Homo sapiens: one gene and its partners. The protein of the gene in region 3 purifies or fractionates together with the protein of the main gene of each other region. This does not show direct contact. Each region holds a gene or a part of one and is shown on either strand. Other genes may lie near its edges.

Region 1 (3,651 bases), on a different chromosome or scaffold from region 3:
GAATATTTTCCATCTGAGGTTGGTTGAATCCATGGATGCAGAACCCATGACATAGAGAGCCGACTGTATAGCATACATAAAATTCAGCAAGCTGTTCACTTAAGACTTGCACAATTTATTGTACCTAAGTTTTTTTTTTTAAAAAAGATACTCATAGAATACTTCTAAAGGAAGAAATGAGTAAATTAAGAATAATTCCTCTATTTAGAAGAAGTAAAAACTAGTAGAAGTACAAAGAGAAGAAAGTAGACCAGGCCTACAGAAGAAAAGGGTGACTTGGAAACCAGCCTGAGATAGACATATCCCTAGGGTTTTACACTGGCAAGAGTCTTTAGGTCCAGAAACAGGAGTAAAAAAACAAACACAGGAGCCAATAGTTCCTATCGTTCTGTTTTGGATTCTGTACTTTTTTTTGCCTTTTTAAAAAAAAGATAATTTTAGATTTACAGCTGAGTTGCAAAAATAGTACAGGGTTCCCATATGCCCTATATCCAGCTTCCCCTTATGTTAACATGTTATACAACCATAGGGAGTCATCAAAGCTAAGAAATTAACATCGGTACAGGTACAGACTTCATTCAGATTTTACAAGTTTTTCCACCAATGTCCTTTTTCTGTTTCAGGTTCCCATACTATTTAGTTGTCATGCCTCCTTAGTTCCCTCGAATCCGATAGTTCCTTGACTTTTTCATCTTTCAAAACCTTGACGCTTTCTTTTTTTATTTTTATTTTTTGAGACGGAGTCTCTCTCTGTCACCAGGCTGGAGTTCAGTGGTGTGATCTCGGCTCACTGCAACCTCTGCCTCCCGGGTTCAAGCGATTCTCCTGCCTCTGCCTCTCAAGTAGCTGGGACTACAGGTGCAGGCCACCACGCCCAGCTAATTTTTCTATTTTTAGTAGAGATGGGTTTTCAACATGTTGGCCAGGCTGGTCTGGATCTGCTGACCTCATGATCCGCCCATCTCAGCCTCCCAAAGTGCTGGGATTATAGGCATGAGCCACCGTGCCCGGCCCTTGAGTAGTGGAATTATAGGCATGCACCACCACGCCGAGCTAATTTTTGTATTTTTATTAGAGACGGGGTTTCGCCATGTTGGCCAGGCTGGTCTTGAACTCCTGACCTCAAGTGATCCTCCCACCTTGGCCTCCCAAAGTGCTGGGATTACAGGCATGAGCCACCGTACCCAGTCCCCCCCAAATTTTTTTTTTAAAGGTTCAGGAGAATAGATCTTTCGTCAGTAACTTCTATGAATATTCAGGTAAGATAAGGAGAAGCCTGAAGATTACAAATTCCTGTCATCACAAAGTAATCTCAGTGGAACAAAGGTCTTTGCTAACAACCGACTGAACATCACTCTGGGATGCTCTGGTACAAGGATCCCCTTCTTATGCTGACCTAATAAGTAAAAACCACATAATGGTATAAGGAGCATCAGAGAAATGAAATAAGAAATGGTCAGCATTAGTGAGGAAACAAAATATGGAAAAGGATTTGGATGTTTAAAAAATAAAACAGTGTCTGGCGGCTCATGCCTGTAATCCTAGCACTTTGGGAGGCTGAGGCAGGAGGATCACTTAAGCCTAGGAGTTTGAGACCAGTCTGGCCAACATGGTGAAACTTGTCTTTACTGAAAATACAAAAATTAGTTGGGTGTGGCCAGGCACGGTGGCTCACGCCTGTAATTCCAGCACTTTGGGAGGCCGAGTGGGGTGGATCACCTGAGGTCAGGAGTTCAACACCAGCCTGGCTAACATGGTGAAACCCGTTTCTACTAAAAATACAAAAAATTAGCCGGGCATGGTGGCACACACCTGTAATCCCAGCTACTTGGGAGGCTGAGGCAGGAGAATTGCTTAAACCTGGGAGGTGGAGGTTGCAGTGAGCCGAGATCACGCCACTGCACTCCAGCCTGGGTGACAGAGCAAGGCTCCATCTCAGGAAAAAAAAAAAAAAAAATTAGCTGGGCATGGTGGCATGCACCTATAGTCCCAGCTATTCAGGAGGCTGAGGTGGGAGGATCACTTGACACCAAGAGTTAAAGGTTGCAGTGAGCTATGATCATGCCACTGTACTCCAGCCCCAGTGACAGAAGAGTGAGACCCTGTCTCTAAGAAAATAAATAAAAATTAAGAAAATAATTTTTCTTAAAAAAGATACACTGACGCTGAAGCTGGGCACGGTGGTTCATGCTTGTAATCCCAGCACTTTGGGAGGCTGAGACGGCGGATCATGAGGTCAAGAGATCAAGACCATCCTGGCCAACATGATGAAACCCTGTCTCTACTAACAATACCAAAATTAGCTAGGCGTCGTGGCATGTGCCTGTAGTCCCAGCTACTCAGGAGGCTGAAGCAGGAGAGTCGCTTGAGCCCAGGAGGCAGAGGCTGCAGTGAGCCAAGATTGCGCCATTACACTCCAGACTGACAACAGTGAGACTCTGTCTCAAAAAGAAAATATATATATATATATATACACACATATATATATATATATATATATATATATATATACACACACATATATATATATATATATATATACACACACATATATATATATATATATATATATACACACACATATATATATATATATATATATATATATATATACACACATATATATATATATATATATATATACTGACCCTGTAGTTTCAAGGGCATTTGGGAACTGCTCACATATAACCCAGCCTAAATAAATCATATTCATAAATCTGTGCGGCCTCATCTCTCAATACTTAGACATAACTTTACATAAAGGACCCAGGACTGGGAGATGGAGAGCACATTTTCATGCTGTGTTCCAGGGCTTGGCCTGGATCATCAGTATTAGTAGCAGCTCTCCCTTCCTCGTGTTGCCAAAAAGGGTCAAAACCGTCTACTGAGGGGGTAGGATGGAGAATCAATACATTATAATCTCCATGTTATTGTTTATTTTATTTGTTTATTTATTTTGGACACAGGGTCTGGTTTCGTCACCAAGGCTGGAGTGCAGTGGTGCAATCTGGGCTCACTGCAACCTCCACCTCCTGGGCTCAAGCCATCCTCTCACCTCAGCCTCCAGAGTAGCTGGAACTACAGGGGCATGCCACCATGCCCTGCTAATTTTTGTATTTTTTGTAGAGAGAGGGTTTCACTATGTTGCCCAGGCTGGTCTTGACCTCCTGGGCTCAAGCAGTCCGCCTGCCTTGACCTCCCGAAGTGCTGGGATTACAGGCGTGAGCCACTGCATCTAGCCTCCATGTCACTATAATGCCTTACACGATTCACCACCTTTTTTTTTTTTTTTTTTAAGACAGAGTCTTGCTGTGTCACCCAGGCTAGAGTGCAGTGGCGCAATCTTGGCTCACTGAAACTTCTGCCACCTGGGTTCAAGCGAGCACGTCTGGTTAATTTTTGTATTTTTAGTAGAGACGGGGTTTCATCATGTTGGCCAGGCTGGTCTCGAACTCCTGACCTCCAGTGATCCACCCGCCTCAGTCTCCCAAAGTGCTGGGATTACAGACGTGAGCCACTGCACCCAGCTGTTCACCACCTTCTTACTTTGTTCAGGGCCTTAGTCCAAAGCCCAAGCCCCAACTCACTTGCTACTCTCCCTCAACACCTGTTGCAGGATCCATTATTACCTGTGGCTTACAGTCAAAGAAG
Region 2 (3,651 bases), on a different chromosome or scaffold from region 3:
ATAGTGTTTTAATCTTGGGCTTGTAACTTTGCTACTTGGATTCCTTGAGAACTTTGTATACCAAAGCCATTAGTCTCTACATCTTGCATTTCTGTGAGGCTGCAGTCTGCTCCATTTAAAGCAAATTTAAAATGGATTTGGGGATTTTTTGTTACCAGTGAGTGCCACTTCCCTTGTAGTCTTCTAATTTTTTCTTTTTCTGTCATTCCCTGCTTTCTTCCTCATTCACATACATACTCCCACATAATCTTATTATATATGCTACTTGCATTTTTAAGTGAACAAAACAGATTGTAATCATTTTGAGAAACAGGAGGCTTAAGAATAAAAGCTCTGCATGATGTTGAGGCAAATTTAAGTGTCAGGCATAAATGAAATACTGAAGTAGCTTGAATAAGTTTGGATATGCCATGTGAGTCTTAAGATTCTCAAGTAAGGTTTATTTTATAAACCACTAGTTCAGATCAACTATAGCTCTATAAAACACCTTAATGCCTTTTTTTTTTTTTTTTTTTTTGAGACCAAGTCTCGCTCTGTCCCTTAGGCTGAAGTGCAGTGGCACAATCTCGGCTAACTGCAAGCTCCACCTCCCAGGTTCACACCATTTTCCTGCCTCAGCCTCCTGAGTAGCTGGGACTACAGGCGCCCGCCACCACGCCCGGCTAATTTTTTGTATTTTTTTAGTAGAGACGGAGTTTCACCGTGTTAGCCTGACCTTGTGCTCCACCCGCCTCGGCCTCTCAAAGTGCTGGGATTACAGGCATGAGCCACCACGTCTGGCCCTTAATGCCCATTTTTAATGTGTATTCAGATTTTATATTATGAACCAGTTTTTAATGAAATGGACAGACATGAAAATTCAGTGGCAGGGTTCAACTAGATAACCTCCCATTTTATCTGCTTTTATTAATGTAGTCAGTTACTTTTTTGATTACCTTCAACAGTTGTGATCTCACATACTATACAGCATAATATTAAGTGTTCTTTGGACTGCTGTTCTCTAACTTTGTTGAGCATAAGAATTTCCTACAAAAGTATGTTAAAAGGCTGGCCAGGTAGAGGGACCTTGGGCAAAAAAAAAAAAGATCCTGGTTGCTCCGCCCCCAATTTTGATTTAGAAGTTATGTGATAAGACCCTGATTCTACATTTTTAACAGGTTGTCCAAGAGATTGTGAAGTTAGGGGATCCTCAGGGCATCAATTTACAGAATTAGGTGTTCATGTTCTCAGTGAAAAAATACATACATATATAAGAACAGTTCCTCAGCTTCATGCTATAAATATTGTTGAAGTGTAGTGTAGTGAGCAGGTGGGGATGATGATGAAAATAGCTATGCCATAGAATGATATTGAAAAGATCTTGTGTTTTTGAATATGTACTTCAGCAAATAGTGTTTTCGTTCACAGATAAGAATGTTTTCCTAAACTCCCAACCCTGCTCACTTCCTCAACTTCACCCCCATCTATTTTTTATCAGTCACCATCCTGTGTTTTTGTGGTTCATCATTGAACAGTCTGTTGTTATGCTGTTTCTAATTCAGAGACATTTCATAGATGTTTCCAAATAACTTTAGCTTGAAATTGATTATTTTTACAGACACAATTAAGAGCAGACCGCTTCATCTATATTATGTAAAATTTTTAAGTAAAAATTTGTGTTGGAAAAATTAGTATCACCTGTAAACCCTAACTAATAATTAACTTCATTGCTTTTGAATGCTGAAATACAAATGCCCAATTGTGCCAGACACACAGCAAATACTGGGGAAAGATGGGAATCTAAATATTTTAAATGAAACTTTCACCCTCTTCACTAACACCACTGATAAGCAACTCAGACTCTTCTTCTGTTTCTTTTTCTATCCTCTGTTCTCCTCTTTTTTTCTTTTTTTTTTTTTTCTTTTTTCTCTCTTTTGGGCAGTGGGAGACTCCTCTTTCACAAATTGGGAACAATGGGGCATAAGCAAATTGATACTTATTTCTGGAATCGTGGTGATGTCTATGGAGCAACTGCAACACAAATAACACACCTAAGGTACCCTACTCTGTACAGCCGAGATTCTTTCATTTTCAGCATTGAGATAAACACACTCTGTTCCTGAATGAAATAGAAAGGGTTTCTCTAGGGATTCCTGTGTTTTGCAAATTTGCCTGATTACAGAGAAGATGGGGGTGTAGAAGCAGTGGTGACAAGTCTGAGAATAGCTATTTTTATTTTTTAATACTATATTTAATGCCCAACATTTCTGCAAAATGCATTTCTACAAAAAACTGGACCTAGAATGTCTAATGAGGTGTTACTTTACATTTTTGTAACACCGATTTTGATCATTTAAGTCACTAATGCTTCTTAATTGACTATAAATTGATTAACCTCTCTTAAAATACTAATAAGTAGATCATGGGTTTTGGTATCTCATTTTATTAATTATTTGTGTGGTAATGACATAATATTTCCCTTGAACTATCTTTCCTTAATTGTATAATGTCAGTACTAATTTTAATTTCCCGTCTTGTGGCATTTACTCCAATACCTTCACAGGTTTGAGAGACTTTTGGGTTATGGAGAAGGGGAGATTTTTTGGGATTTTTAATTTTAATTTTCATTTTTATTTTTTTCAAGAAACTTGATAGAGTAGGAAAAATTGTGATTATGGTGTTGTCTAAATTCAAGTCTTGTCTTTGTCACTTAAATAGAACTTTATGGCACAGAACATTTCGCTTTATTTCTGGCCCTCAGTTCTTAAGAGTGACGGGTTCTAAGATCCTTTTATTGTTTTTGTAGCATTTCTTTGCTTCTTTTTGTTATGCTTGTTTAGACTTTTGTGTCTTTGTTTAGGGTTAGGTTGTACATAATTACTCCCTTATTTTAGAAGATATGGTGCTTGTCTAAACTAATTTGGCATTGCGCTGAATTATGTGTTCCCATTATGTTATAGTAGAACATGTAGCATGAGTACTCTGCCTTCTTAACAATGGTAAAACATGAAAACTTTCTTTTACAGAGAAGCATATGCAATTGGGAAGAAAGAGAAACCTCCCTTCTTACCAGAGGAGCCATCTTCTTCCTCAGAAGAAGATGATCCTATCCCAGATGAATTGTTGTGTCTCATCTGCAAGGATATTATGACTGATGCTGTTGTGATTCCCTGCTGTGGAAACAGTTACTGTGATGAATGTAAGAAGTGCTGAATCTTGGAAGATGTATATTTTAGAATATTTGTATTTACTTGGAATGGCTCTTCCCAACCTCATATGTTTTAATAATAAAATAAATAATGTTGATGACAAGTGTTGATCAATGAGCATTAAGTAGTGAGAAGTCTGTTTTTCTTGCTGTATCTTTTTTAAACAATAACCTGTTTGTCCTTTTAAATTCTAGAATTGACTTCTGTACCTTCATCAGGGTGACTATACTGAGGTGTTTTTCTTAATATAGACTTTTTGTTTCCTGTATGTTTTAAGTGGTATCCAGAATTTTAAAACTTTTTTGGGCCTTAGATAATTCTGGAAATATTTTTAAGTGGTATCTAAATCTTTTTCCTGGATTGTGAATAGCTTATCCTAATATTTCTAAGTGTATTAACACCTGATTCCTGTAGACAGTTTTTGTTTTTTTTTTTTTTTTTTGAGACAGAGTCTCACTGTCTC
Region 3 (4,416 bases):
ATCCCACAAAAATTGGCCTGGTTTGGTGGTGTGCACCTGTAGTCCCAGCTACTGAGGAGGCTGAGGCTGGAGGATCGCTTGAACCTGGGAGCTTGAGGCTGCAGTGAGCTATCATCATGCTGCTGTATTCCAGCCTGGGCAACAGAGCAACACTCATGCTTGAGGAAAAAGAAAAAGAAAAAAAAAAAAGCCGGGTACAGTGGCTCATGCCTGTAATCCCAGCACTCTGGGAGGCTGAGGTGGGTGGATCACTTGAGGTCAGGAGTTTGAGACCAGACTGGCCAACATGGTGAAACCTCATCTCTATTAAAAATACAAAAAAATTTAGCCGGGTGTGGTGGGGGATGCTTGTAATCCCAGCTACTCAGGAGGCTGAGACAGGAGAATCGCTTGAACCTGCCAGGTTGTAGTAAGCTGAGATCGTGCCAGTGTACTCCAGCGTGGGCAACAGAGTGAAACTCAGTCTAAAAAAAAAAAAAAAAAAAAAGAAAAGAAAAAAGAAAGGAAATACCAAGGCAAGGCAAAGATTGACAAGGCAATAGAAATCAATGCAATTAAACACTGTCACTTCCCCCACCCCCCAGGTTCTACCCAGTAAGATATCTTTTCTCTAACTTGTCAAAGCCCATTATTAAGTAACAGCTTCATTTGTGAATGCTCTCACCTTTATTTCTCTCAATATACCCGTGATACAGATATTTCATATGTAACAAAGATAAGGATGTGTGCAGGTATAAAACAGAGGCAGAATCATGGCTAAAACATCTAGCCCAGCAATGAACTCATTATCCCTGAGGGGTAGGGGCCGGGGAGGAGAGGAGTCACAGGCAGTTCACCAACACCTGGAAAATCGATGACTTCATGGAGAATGAATGACTCGGGGGGATTCAGATCATGAAGTCATGAGAAGAAGGCCTTTCTGCCCAGGGATGATGTTTCTCAGTATCAATAATCAGTTGTGGGTTTTTTTCTTCTATTTCTTCCAGCAGCTTATTGAGTTCATCATTAAAGTCATCGATTTTCAACCTGGGGTACAATGGGGGAAGAAAAGGTTACTTTGTGCATCAAGGAGATTTGTTTCAAATTCCCAAGTACCTGAAAGTCTGTTAAGGAGGCACAGGGCATGGGTCACCTTTCCTGATTATTCTAGGTGGCAAAGGAGTGTTCCACATTGATTTTTTTTTTTTTTTTTTAAAAGACAGTCTCAGGTGGGGCGTGATGGCTCACGCCTGTAATTCCCAGCACTTTAGGAGGCTGAGGCGGGTGGATCACGAGGTCAGCAGATCAAGACCATCCTGGCTAACACGGTGAAACCCTGTCTCTACTAAAAAAATACAAAAAATTAGCCGGGCGTGGTGGCGGACGCCTGTAGTCCCAGCTACTCAGGAGGCTGAGGCAGGAGAATGGTGTGAACCCGGGAGGCGGAGCTTGCAGTGAGCCGAGATCGTGCCACTGTACTCCAGCCTGGGCGATCTCAAAAAAAAAAAAAAAAAAAAAAAAAAAAAAAAAAAAAAAGACAGTCTCTCTGTTGCCCAAGCTGGAGTGCAGTGGTACCATCTCAGCTCACTGCAACCTGTGCCTCTTGGGTTCAAGCCATCCTATCCTCTGCCTCCCGAGTAGCTGGGACTACAGGCACCTGCCACCATGCTCAGCTAATTTTTGTATTTTTAGTAGAGTTGGGGTTTTACCATGTTGCCTAAACTGTACCTGGCTTGATTTGCTTATTTTTTATTTTTAAATATAAAATGAGGCCAGATGTGGTGGGTCATGCCTGTAATGCCAGCACTTTGGGAGAGTGAGGTGGGCAGATCACTTGAGGTCAGGAGTTTGAGACCAGCCTAGGCAAGATGGTGAAAGTCCATCTCTACTAAAAATATAAAAGTTAGTTGGGTGTGATGGTGCATCCCTATAATCCCAGCTACTCAGGAAGCTGACACAGGAGAATCACTTGAACCTGGGAGGCGGAGGTTACAGTGAGCTGAGATCGGGCCCCTGCACTCCAGCCTGAGCAATAGAGTGAGATTTTTGTCTAAAAAATAAATGAAGTAAATAATAAAATGTAATATTAAAGACTTTCATTTCTCTTTTTAATCCTTTTTTTCATTCCTCTTATTCTCAACCATGTTGATCTGATAGAGAAAAACATAACATCAGGTTAACCTTGTAATGGTATATAGCCATTGTGCAGTTTGAGATGCTTGTTGATTATCATACACAGAAAATGGAATTGCTGAGTACAGCTGGGCTATAGCTCTAATACCTGCTTACCCGCTCTATCACCCACTTTGGCAACTTCTACTCAGTGGACCCCGGAGTACCAGTTAAACAGAGGAGATGCAGGCCAGGCATGGTGGCTCACGCCTGTAATCTTAGCACTTTGGGAGGCTGAGGCAGGCGGGTCACCTGAAGTCAGGAGTTCGAGACCAGCCTGACCAATATGGAGAAACCCTGTCTCTATTAAAAATACAAGATTAGCCAGGTGTGGTGGCACATGCCTGTAGTCCCAGCTACTTGGGAGGCTGAGGGAGGAGAACCTCTTGAACCCGGGAGGCGGAGGTTGCAGTAAGCCGAGATAGCGCCATTGCGCTCCAGGCTGGACAACAAGAGTAAAACTCTGGCCGGGCGGGGAGGTGGGGGGGTCAGCCCCCCGCCCAGCCAGCCGCCCTGTCCGGGAGGTGAGGGGCGCCTCTGCCCGGCCGCCCCTAATGGGAAGTGAGGAGCCCCTCTAACCGGCCAGCCGCCCTGTCCGGGAGGGAGGTGGGGGGGTCAGCCCCCCATTTTGTTCTGTACTAAGAAAAATTCTTCTGCCTTGGGATCCTGTTGATCTGTGACCTTACCCCCAACCCCGTGCTCTCTGAAACATGTGCTGTGTCCACTCAGAGTTAAACGGATTAAGGGCGGTGCAAGATATGCTTTGTTAAACAGATCCTGAAGGCAGCACGCTCGTTAAGAGTCATCACCACTCCCTAATCTCAAGTACCCAGGGACACAAACGCTGCGGAAGGCCGCAGGGTCCTCTGCCTAGGAAAACCAGAGACCTTTGTTCACTTGTTTATCTGCTGACCTTCCCTCCACTATTGTCCTATGACCCTGCCAAATCCCCCTCTGTGAGAAACACCCAAGAATGATCAATAAAAAAAAAAAAAAAAAAAAAGGAAAAAAAAAAAAAAAAAAGAAAAAAGATGCACCCCAAAAAAAAGAGTAAAACTGTCTCCAAAATAAATAATAAATAAACAAACAAACAAACTTAAAGCTTAAAAAAACCCTTAGTGTCCATATGTCTTTTGACTTACAAAGTATCTTAGGCTGAGTTTCATGTTAAATAAACAAGTAATCTATGTTTCTTCTACATAAAGATTATTTTAAGCCAGCAGTAGAGTATATTGCTTGTGAGAATTTCTGAAGTTCCCACATTCCTAGGAAGGGGCTTCTTGGTTCTTTGATGCCATGGTATCAAAATACAACTCAGGCCGGGTGCGGTGGCTCATGCCTGTAATCCCAGCACTTTGGGATGCTGAGGTGGGCAAATCACGGAGGTCAGGAGTTTGAGACCACCCTGGCCAACATGGCAAAACCCTGTCTCTACTAAAAATACAAAAATTACCTAGGTGTGGTGGTGCATGCCTGTAATCCCAGCTACTTGGGAGGCTGAAGCATGAGAATAGCTGGAACCTGGGAGGTGGAGGTTGCAGTTAGCAACCACTGCACCCCAGCCTGGGCAACAGAGTGAGACTCCATCTCAGAAAAAAAAAAAAAAAAAGAAAGAAAAAACAAAACAAAACCCCAAAACCCTGACAAAATGCAACAAACAAAACACAGCCCAGTGACAAATGGCTATCATGAGCAGGTAGACGGCAGCCGTGGCTGGGTGCAATGGTTCATGCTTATAAACCTACCTACTCAGGAACTGAGGCAGGATTGCTTGAGCCCAGGAGCTGGAGCGAGCCTGCAGCGAGCCATCATTGTGCTGCTGGACTCCAGCCTGGGGAACATAGTGAGTTCTTGCCTCAAAGGAAAAAAAAAAAAAAGGTGGCCGGGTGCGGTTGCTCACGCCTGTAATCCCAGCACTTTGGGAGGCCGAGGCGGGCGGATCACCTGAGGTCAGGAGTTTGAGACCAGCCTGACCAACATGGTGAAACCCCGTTTCTCCAAGTGAAATACAGAAATTGGCTGGGTGTGATGGCGGGAACCTGTAATCCAGCTACCAGATCAGTCTCCTACAGCAGGTCCATGTCATTATGCTTCCCCTAAACCTACCACTCTGGAGAAAGCCTGATGGGGAAGTAAATGGATCATACCTGAGTGTCCGGAGGGTGCCACTGGAACATGTCAAGGTTTCAAACAGCATCTTCACTCCACTAGACCCCAAGGGATTCTGACCCAGGTCCAGAGTGACGAGGCTCTGGTTGCAGCTGA

The links.
Region 1: the proteins of NLRP2 (region 3) and TAF13 purify together in Homo sapiens (affinity purification with mass spectrometry; one large-scale study listed by BioGRID and IntAct). This does not show direct contact.
Region 2: the proteins of NLRP2 (region 3) and RBBP6 purify together in Homo sapiens (affinity purification with mass spectrometry, with the first as the bait; one large-scale study listed by BioGRID). This does not show direct contact.

What each region holds. Positions count from the first base shown.
Region 1 is NC_000001.11:109,069,504-109,073,154, forward strand, and holds part of TAF13 (transcription initiation factor TFIID subunit 13), read right to left. Parts: intron 1-3,651. UniProt on the Homo sapiens protein: The TFIID basal transcription factor complex plays a major role in the initiation of RNA polymerase II (Pol II)-dependent transcription.
Region 2 is NC_000016.10:24,556,500-24,560,150, forward strand, and holds part of RBBP6 (E3 ubiquitin-protein ligase RBBP6), read left to right. Parts: intron 1-3,005; coding exon 3,006-3,178; intron 3,179-3,651. UniProt on the Homo sapiens protein: E3 ubiquitin-protein ligase which promotes ubiquitination of YBX1, leading to its degradation by the proteasome.
Region 3 is NC_000019.10:54,997,370-55,001,785, reverse strand, and holds the end of NLRP2 (NACHT, LRR and PYD domains-containing protein 2), read right to left. Parts: coding exon 4,299-4,416; intron 1,027-4,298; coding exon 888-1,026; 3' UTR 648-887; downstream 1-647. UniProt on the Homo sapiens protein: Suppresses TNF- and CD40-induced NFKB1 activity at the level of the IKK complex, by inhibiting NFKBIA degradation induced by TNF. When associated with PYCARD, activates CASP1, leading to the secretion of mature pro-inflammatory cytokine IL1B.